Linked DNA regions of Homo sapiens. The protein of the gene in region 1 purifies or fractionates together with the protein of each later gene. This does not show direct contact. Each region holds a gene or a part of one and is shown on either strand. Other genes may lie near its edges.

Region 1 (3,654 bases):
TCAGTAAATGGCACCATCATCAATTCTGACACCCTGCCCTACACTGCTCCCTCTCCCCTTCCCCAACTTCAATACCACCTCCAACTTCTGTCCTTTAACCCCTCCTTAATATTTCTTAAATATGCCCCTTCTCTCCATTCCAAGGTCTCTCCACTGTGGCACTAGTGACACTCCCGGCCAGATAATTCTTTGCTGTGGAGGACTGTCCTATAGCATTGTAGGATGTTTAGCAGCATCGTGGCCTCTACCTACTAGATGCCAGGTACACCCCTCCAGTTTTGACAACCAAAAACGTCTGCAGACACAGCCAAATGTTTACTGGGTGGCAAAACAGCCCTGGTTGAGAAGCACTGCAGTAATTCCCACAGACATCATTCCATCACTCTCACTCAGAAAACCACCATCTCTCTCTCCTGGACTCATAGCCTCAGCCCCTTCCTGGGCCCCCTGCCTCTCTCCTCTCACCCCTTTAACCCATCCACATTAGCAGCCAGAATGAACCTTCAAAAAATGGAGATCTGACCACGTCCCTCCCTTTCCCAAAACCCCTTGGTGGCTCCTCATTGCCTTCAGAATGTGGTCCCAACTCTCCAAAATGGCTTCCAAGGCCTGCCATGATCTGGCTCATGCCAGCCTCTCCTACATCGCTTCTTTCTCCACCTTATTTTGCTCTTTATGCCCCAGTCATACCAAATTACTTGTGATTGGAAAGACACAATAAACTCTTCTGCCTCTGCCTGCTTTTAGGCAAGCTGTTCTTCTGGTTGCAATTTCCTTACTCCTCTCATAGAATTGAAGATCTTTCATTTGTCCTTCAAAACCCTCCTCAGTTGAGTCCAGGAAGCCTATTGCCATCTTATACACATGAACTCTCCCCCCCCGGGCATTCTCTGTGCATTGAATGCACATCTACATATGGCATAATGTATTTGCTATTACATCTATTTCTGCCATTAGTCTCCTTGAGGCCAGGAACTGTGGCTTATTTATTTTGTGTTCCTAGCACTCAGCACAATGCTGGGCACTCTGTAGGTGCTCAGTGACCACCTGTTACGTTGATGACTTCTTTTCCTACTAGCGGTGAGATACTTGTCTCCTTTTCACCTTACTCCTCCCTGATGCCAAGGACAGAATGTAACTCAGAGTAGGTGCTCAATTAAAGCTGATTGAATTTAGCTGAATCCCAAGGAGGGCCCCTTAATCCTGACCGCTTAACCTACAATCCCTGCAGCGTTCCCTGGATGCCAGCCCTTGTCCCTCCGCAGACCTTTGATGAGGCCACTGGCAGCACCAGGGATGCCCTGGATCTCTGTGACATTGTTTCGGGTGAAGTATTCATCACAGGTGGCGTTGAGGAAGCGAGAGGAGCAGAAAAGGCCCCATAGCCGTGTGGTCACCGTCTCATTTCCTTCCCAAGCCAGCTTGGCACAGACATCAAAGCCATGGCGAGACAGCGTGCGGTTACCCAGGAGGCAGATCCTAGGGAGAGAAACAAGGGAGGAAGGTGGGGAGCCACATAACCTTGCCCTCGCTGCACAATACAGCCACCGGGAGACCTTTTAAACACACGGACGCCAGGTCCCCATATCCAGAGTTCCTCGTTTAATTTAAATGAAGCCTGGCCATTGGCTTTTTTTTTTTTTTCTTAAGCTCCCCAAGTGATTCTAATAAGCAGCCAAGGTGGAGAAGCACCGCATTAGTGCAATGCTGTGTTTCAGCACCGTGGACAGCGGTCTCGGGGGCCGCCCTCCACCTCTGAGCAGTGGATGGAGTGGACTTGGATCTGAGTCCCTGGACCCTGTAGACTTCTGTGTCTTTTCCCATCCTGGAGGAGTTGTCCAACACTAGGAGATTGTCCCATTCCAGGAGGTTGTCCCCACCCAGGAAAGGTTTCCCTACCACAGACAGCATTCATTGCTTTGGAACTCATTCCCACTTAATTCTTCCTAAGTCCACCCTACCAGCAAGAAGTTGACTCTTACAAGGTAAATTGTTCCCTCCTCCAGAAAAGTTACCTCACTCTGAAGAGATTGCCCCCAAACTAAGAGAGATTTTCCCTCCCAAGGGAAGCTACTCCCAACCCACACCACTCTGAGATTCTGAGGGGCAGGGAGGGGGAGTTTGGCAGAGACTCTGAAACAGGGCCAGGGAGGTAGGAGGACGATTCCTTGGGCTCAGAGCAGCAGCACTCACGGGAAGTTGGGTGGGTCGAAGGCAGACTTGATGACCCCAGCATAGATGGCCAGGATGGAGAGGATGACACAACCCAGGAAGACAAGGGCAAACTTGTTGACATACTTGACACCCACAAACACCACAGTGGCCATGCAGGTGAGCACACAGGTGCCGTAAACACGCATGTTGTTCAGCATGGCTGCTGCCTCCCCACTGGCATCTTCTGCCTTGAAGATGGCCATGGCTGGGAAGAGGTAAGCCTGTGGGAAAGGGGCAGGAAGAACAGATACCTAAGTCAGCAGCCCTTTGCACTACATGCAGCGCTTTAGGAAAAAAGATGCTCATCACAGCACAGTCACAGTGGTACCAGACTGGAAAAGACATCCAGTAATAGGAGAATCGCTAAAGAAGGCATGGCCTGTCCTGCAAGGACTATGATGCAGCCATTTAAAAATGACATTATAAGGCCAGGCATGGTGGCTCACACCTGTGATCCCAGTGTTTTGAGAGGCCAAGGTGGGAGGATCACTTGAAGCCAGGATTTCAATACCAGCCTAGGCAACATAATGTGACCCCATCTCAAAAACAAATAAAAATACATTTTTTAAAAAATGACATTGCAAGGATGCTGGAAGCAATTACTTCTGTTATTTTTGTTAATTATAATTCTTAATAATTATTTATCATTTTAATAATTTCTAATAGAAAGGTGGAAATAAATGTTCATCACTCGAGGTTGGGTGAATAAATCATGATATCCCCACAGACTATGGAGCTATTAAAAAAGATGATGTAGTTGGTTTTTTATTGTTGTTGTTGGTTTTTTATTGTGGTGGTGGTTTTTTTGTTTTTTTTTTGAAATAAAGTTTTGTTCTTGTTGCCCAGGCTGGAGTGCAGTGGCACGATCTTGGCTCACTGCAACCTCCACCTCCTGGGTTCAAGTGATTCTCCTGCCTCAGCCTCCCGAGTAGCTGGGATTAGAGGTGCCCACCACCACCCCTGGCTAATTTTTGTATTTTTAGTAGAGACGGGGTTTCACCGTATCAGTCAGGCTGGTCTCGAACTCCTGACCTCAGGTGATCCAACTGCCTCGGCCTCCCAAAGTTCTGGGATTACAGGCATGAGCCACTGTGCCCGGCCAGATGACATAGATTTATATGGACTGACTTTAAAAGCTATCCATGGTACATTAGGTGAACACAATCAGGTTTTTGAAAAAGAATATGTCTCATTATCTCATTTTTATAAATGTGTATGTGAAGATATATACGTATATTAGTATACGTCTGTATGTGTTTTCATAAGTACATCAAAATGTTGTCAGTAGTTTTCCCTGAATCGTAAAAAATGTGGATAATCTATTCTTTATGCACATCTGTATTTTCTAAAATTCCCATGCTAAATATTAACGTTTACATTCTTCCAAGAGTTATTTTCACTGCAAATAATATATACAAAGAGAATATGAGTTGCTTAGGT
Region 2 (3,654 bases), on another chromosome or scaffold:
GGGAAGTTGAGGCTGCAGTGAGCTATGATCACACTACTACACTCTAGCCTGGGCGATAGAAAAATGCCGTCTCAAGAACAAAAGACAAAAAACAAAAAGAATAAGGGACTATACAAACACTGACAACTTGGACAAAATGGATAAATTTATCAGAAACAAACCACAAGTCACCCATATGAAATAGATAATTGGAACAGTCCTATAAAAACTTTTAGGTTAACTAAATTCATAACTGTAAATCTCCTAATAAAGAAATCTCCAGGCCCAGACCGTTTCACTGGTGAGTTCTACCAAATACTTAAGAAAAGTTAACACCAATTATACACAATATCTTCTAAAAAACAGAAGAGGATGCAATGCTTCCTAATTCATTTTATGAAGTATTACTCTGATGCCAAACCAAAGATAGCACAAAAAGAAAATTAGACTCATATTCCTCATGAATATAGACACAATAACCCATAACAAAACATTAGAAGATAGAATTAAGAGATACACTATATGACAAAGTAGGGCTCATGCAAGACTGTCTCAATACTTGAAAATCAATCATATTAATCATATAAAATCACCATATTAACAGGCTAAGGAAGAAAAATCATATAATCCTATCAATCAACACAGACAAAACATCTGACAAAAAGTTAATATTGAAAGTTAATGATAAAAAAATTTCAGAAAAATAGGAATACAACAGAACTTTCATAACTTGACAAAGATCATCTACCAAAAATTTACAGTTAACATTATACTTAATGATGAAACAACAGATACTTTTCCCTTAAAATGGGAAACAAGGCAAGGATGTCCACTCTCACTACTCTTATTCAACACAGTGCGGAAGTTGCAGCCAGTGAAATATAGCAAGAAAAGGAGATAAAAGGCATACAGATAGAAAAGGGAGAAATAAAACTCTCCGTATCTGCAGATAAATAAAACCTCCATATTTGAAGATGATTGTCCACATTAAAAAAATGACAATCTATCCAAAAATACTCCTAGAACTGAGTCCAGCAATGTCACAGAATACAAGATAAACATAAAATTAACTGTATGTCTAGATTCTAGTAATGAACACCAAAATTATATATAATCACTTTATTCTAAAATTTACATGGAAAGACAAATGAGTTAGAATATCTAAAAACAATTGTGAAAATAAAGGATAAAGTAGGAGGAATGAGTCTGCCCAATTTCAGACTTAAACAGCTACAGCTTAAGACAGTGGGACTGACAGAGGAACATACATATAGATCACATACAGCTCAATCTAACACAGTGGGGAACTTAGAAATAGACTCACACAAATACGCTCAACTGATTTTTAAGAAAGGTGCAAAAGCAATTCAATGAGAAAAGATAGGTGCCAGAACACCCGAACATACTATCCACCCCACAAAAAGGAACCTCAAGTTAAATCTCACACTTGACATAAAAATTCAAAATGCATCACAGACTTAAATGTAATATGTAGGCCAGGTGCTGTGGCTCACGCCTGTAACTCTAGCACTTCAGGAAGCCAAGGCCGAAGGACTGCTTGAGGTCAGAAGTTCGAGACCACCCTAAGCAATACGGAGACACCCCCACCTCTACAAAAAATTTTAAAAATTAGCCAGGCATGGCAGCATGGATGTGTAGTCCCATCTACTTGGGAGGCTGAGGCATAAGGATCACTTGAGCCCAGGACTTTGAGGTTACAGTGAACTGTGACTGTGCCACTGTACTTCAGCCTGGGTGACAGAATGAGACCCTGTCTCTAAATAAAAAATAAATGTAATATGTAAAACAATATTACTTTTATTTATTTTTTAAATAGGAGAGAGTCTTTGAGATCTAGGACTAGGCAAAGAGTTAATAAGACCTGAAACTAAAAGCATGATCCATAAAAAGCGGTAAATTAGACTTAATCAAAATGAAATATTTTGGTTCTATGAAAGACCCTATTAAGAAAATGAAAACTACATACTGGGAGAAAATATGTGTAAACTACATATCTGACAAAGATTGCCAGATTTGTGATCATCAGGGATCATGGAAGGGTGGGGGTGGGGTTAGTATGGCCATAAGATAGCAACATAAGGGATCCTTGGAATCCATGAAAATGTTCTATCTCTCTCTCTCTCTTTTTTTTTTTTTTAAAGAGATAGGGTCTCACTTTGCTGCCCAAGCTAAGTGTAGTGGCACGATCATAGCTCACTGCAACCTTGAACTCCTGGGCTCAAACAATACTCTTGCCGCAGACGCCTGAGCTGACAGGGGCACAACATCATGCCAAGGTAGCTTTTAAATTTCTTGTAGAGACCAGAACTTACCATATTGTCCAGGCTGGTCTAGCCTCAAGGGATCCTGTGGCCTCAGACTCCCAAAGCACTGGGATTAAAGGTTCCCTATCTTAACTGTCAGTATCATGGTTGTGATGTTGTAGCATAGTTTTGACAAAATGTTTCCATCAATGGAAACTTTGTAAAAGGTACAAAGAATCTCATTTCTTAGGATTGCATGTCAATCTACAATTATCTCAAAACTAAAAGTTTAATGAAGACTTTTTTTTTTTTTTTGAGACAGGGTCTCTGTTGCCCAGGCTGTAGTTCAGTGGCACAAAAAAACAGCTCACTGCAACCTTGACCACCCAGGCTCAAGAGATCCTCCCACCTCACCTTCCCAAGTAGCTAAGACCACAGACACATGCCACCAGGCCTAGCTAATTTTTTTTTTTTTTTTGTAGAGATAGGGTCTCTCTATGTTGCCCAGGCTAATCTCAAGATCTTTAGCTCAAGTGATCCTCCCACCTCAGTCTCCCAAAAGTGATGAAAAAAAATTTTTTAATCAATAGTGAGGCTGGTTGAGGTGCCTCACGCCTGTAATCCCAGCACTTTGGGAGGCTGAGGCGGCTAGATTGCTTGAAGCCAGGAGTTCGAGACCAGCCTGGGCAACGTGGCGCAACCCCACCTCTACAAGAAATAAAGTAGCCAGGCGTGGTGGTGCATGTCTATAGTCCCAGCTACTGCAGAGGCTGAGGTAGGAAAATCACTTGAGCCCGGCAGACAGAGGCTGCAGTGAGCCGAGATCACGCCACTGTACTCAAGCCTGGGCAACAGAGTGAGACCTTGTCTCTAAATAAATAAACTGTGAAAAGCACAATCATGACCAATTACCACAGATTTCTTAAGTGTGAAATACCTAAGCCTCAACCACATTAACTAAATATTAAATTAAAATACTAATTTTAACTTTCTACTGTAAATATGTCTTAAAAGAGTCATATTTCCAGAGCTACTGGTATTAATAAAAGTCACATGATTACAACTGCAAGCTAAATATACAATGACGAATTATTACTAAAATTTTGAGGTCTAATTTAGGTATTTATGCTGCCCTGACAAAAAGCCTGAATTTTCTTAATCAAGAGAGTTGTTAAACCAATGAATAACGTGCACCTTCTACTTGCAAACACTATTCTGAAAAGTTTCGTATCTATATTCTTCATCTCTAACACTGAGGCTACATATGAGTCTAGAAGGGAAACAACAGAAGTTCACTCAGCTACTGGGATAAATCCAAGTGAGATGACTCCATATCAATCTAACTCACTGATAAAAAATACCTATTTAAGATAAACCACTTGTTTCTCATCTCTTCCATAAGTTTTCAACT

What was found. Proteins that work in one complex are often made in the same cells at the same time.
Region 2: the proteins of SLC12A5 (region 1) and SUGT1 purify together in Homo sapiens (affinity purification with mass spectrometry; one large-scale study listed by BioGRID and IntAct). This does not show direct contact.

The regions. Positions count from the first base shown.
Region 1 is NC_000020.11:46,039,154-46,042,807, reverse strand, and holds part of SLC12A5 (solute carrier family 12 member 5), read right to left. Parts: intron 2,436-3,654; coding exon 2,194-2,435; intron 1,480-2,193; coding exon 1,268-1,479; intron 1-1,267. UniProt on the Homo sapiens protein: Mediates electroneutral potassium-chloride cotransport in mature neurons and is required for neuronal Cl(-) homeostasis.
Region 2 is NC_000013.11:52,680,320-52,683,973, reverse strand, and holds part of SUGT1 (protein SGT1 homolog), read right to left. Parts: intron 1-3,654. UniProt on the Homo sapiens protein: May play a role in ubiquitination and subsequent proteasomal degradation of target proteins.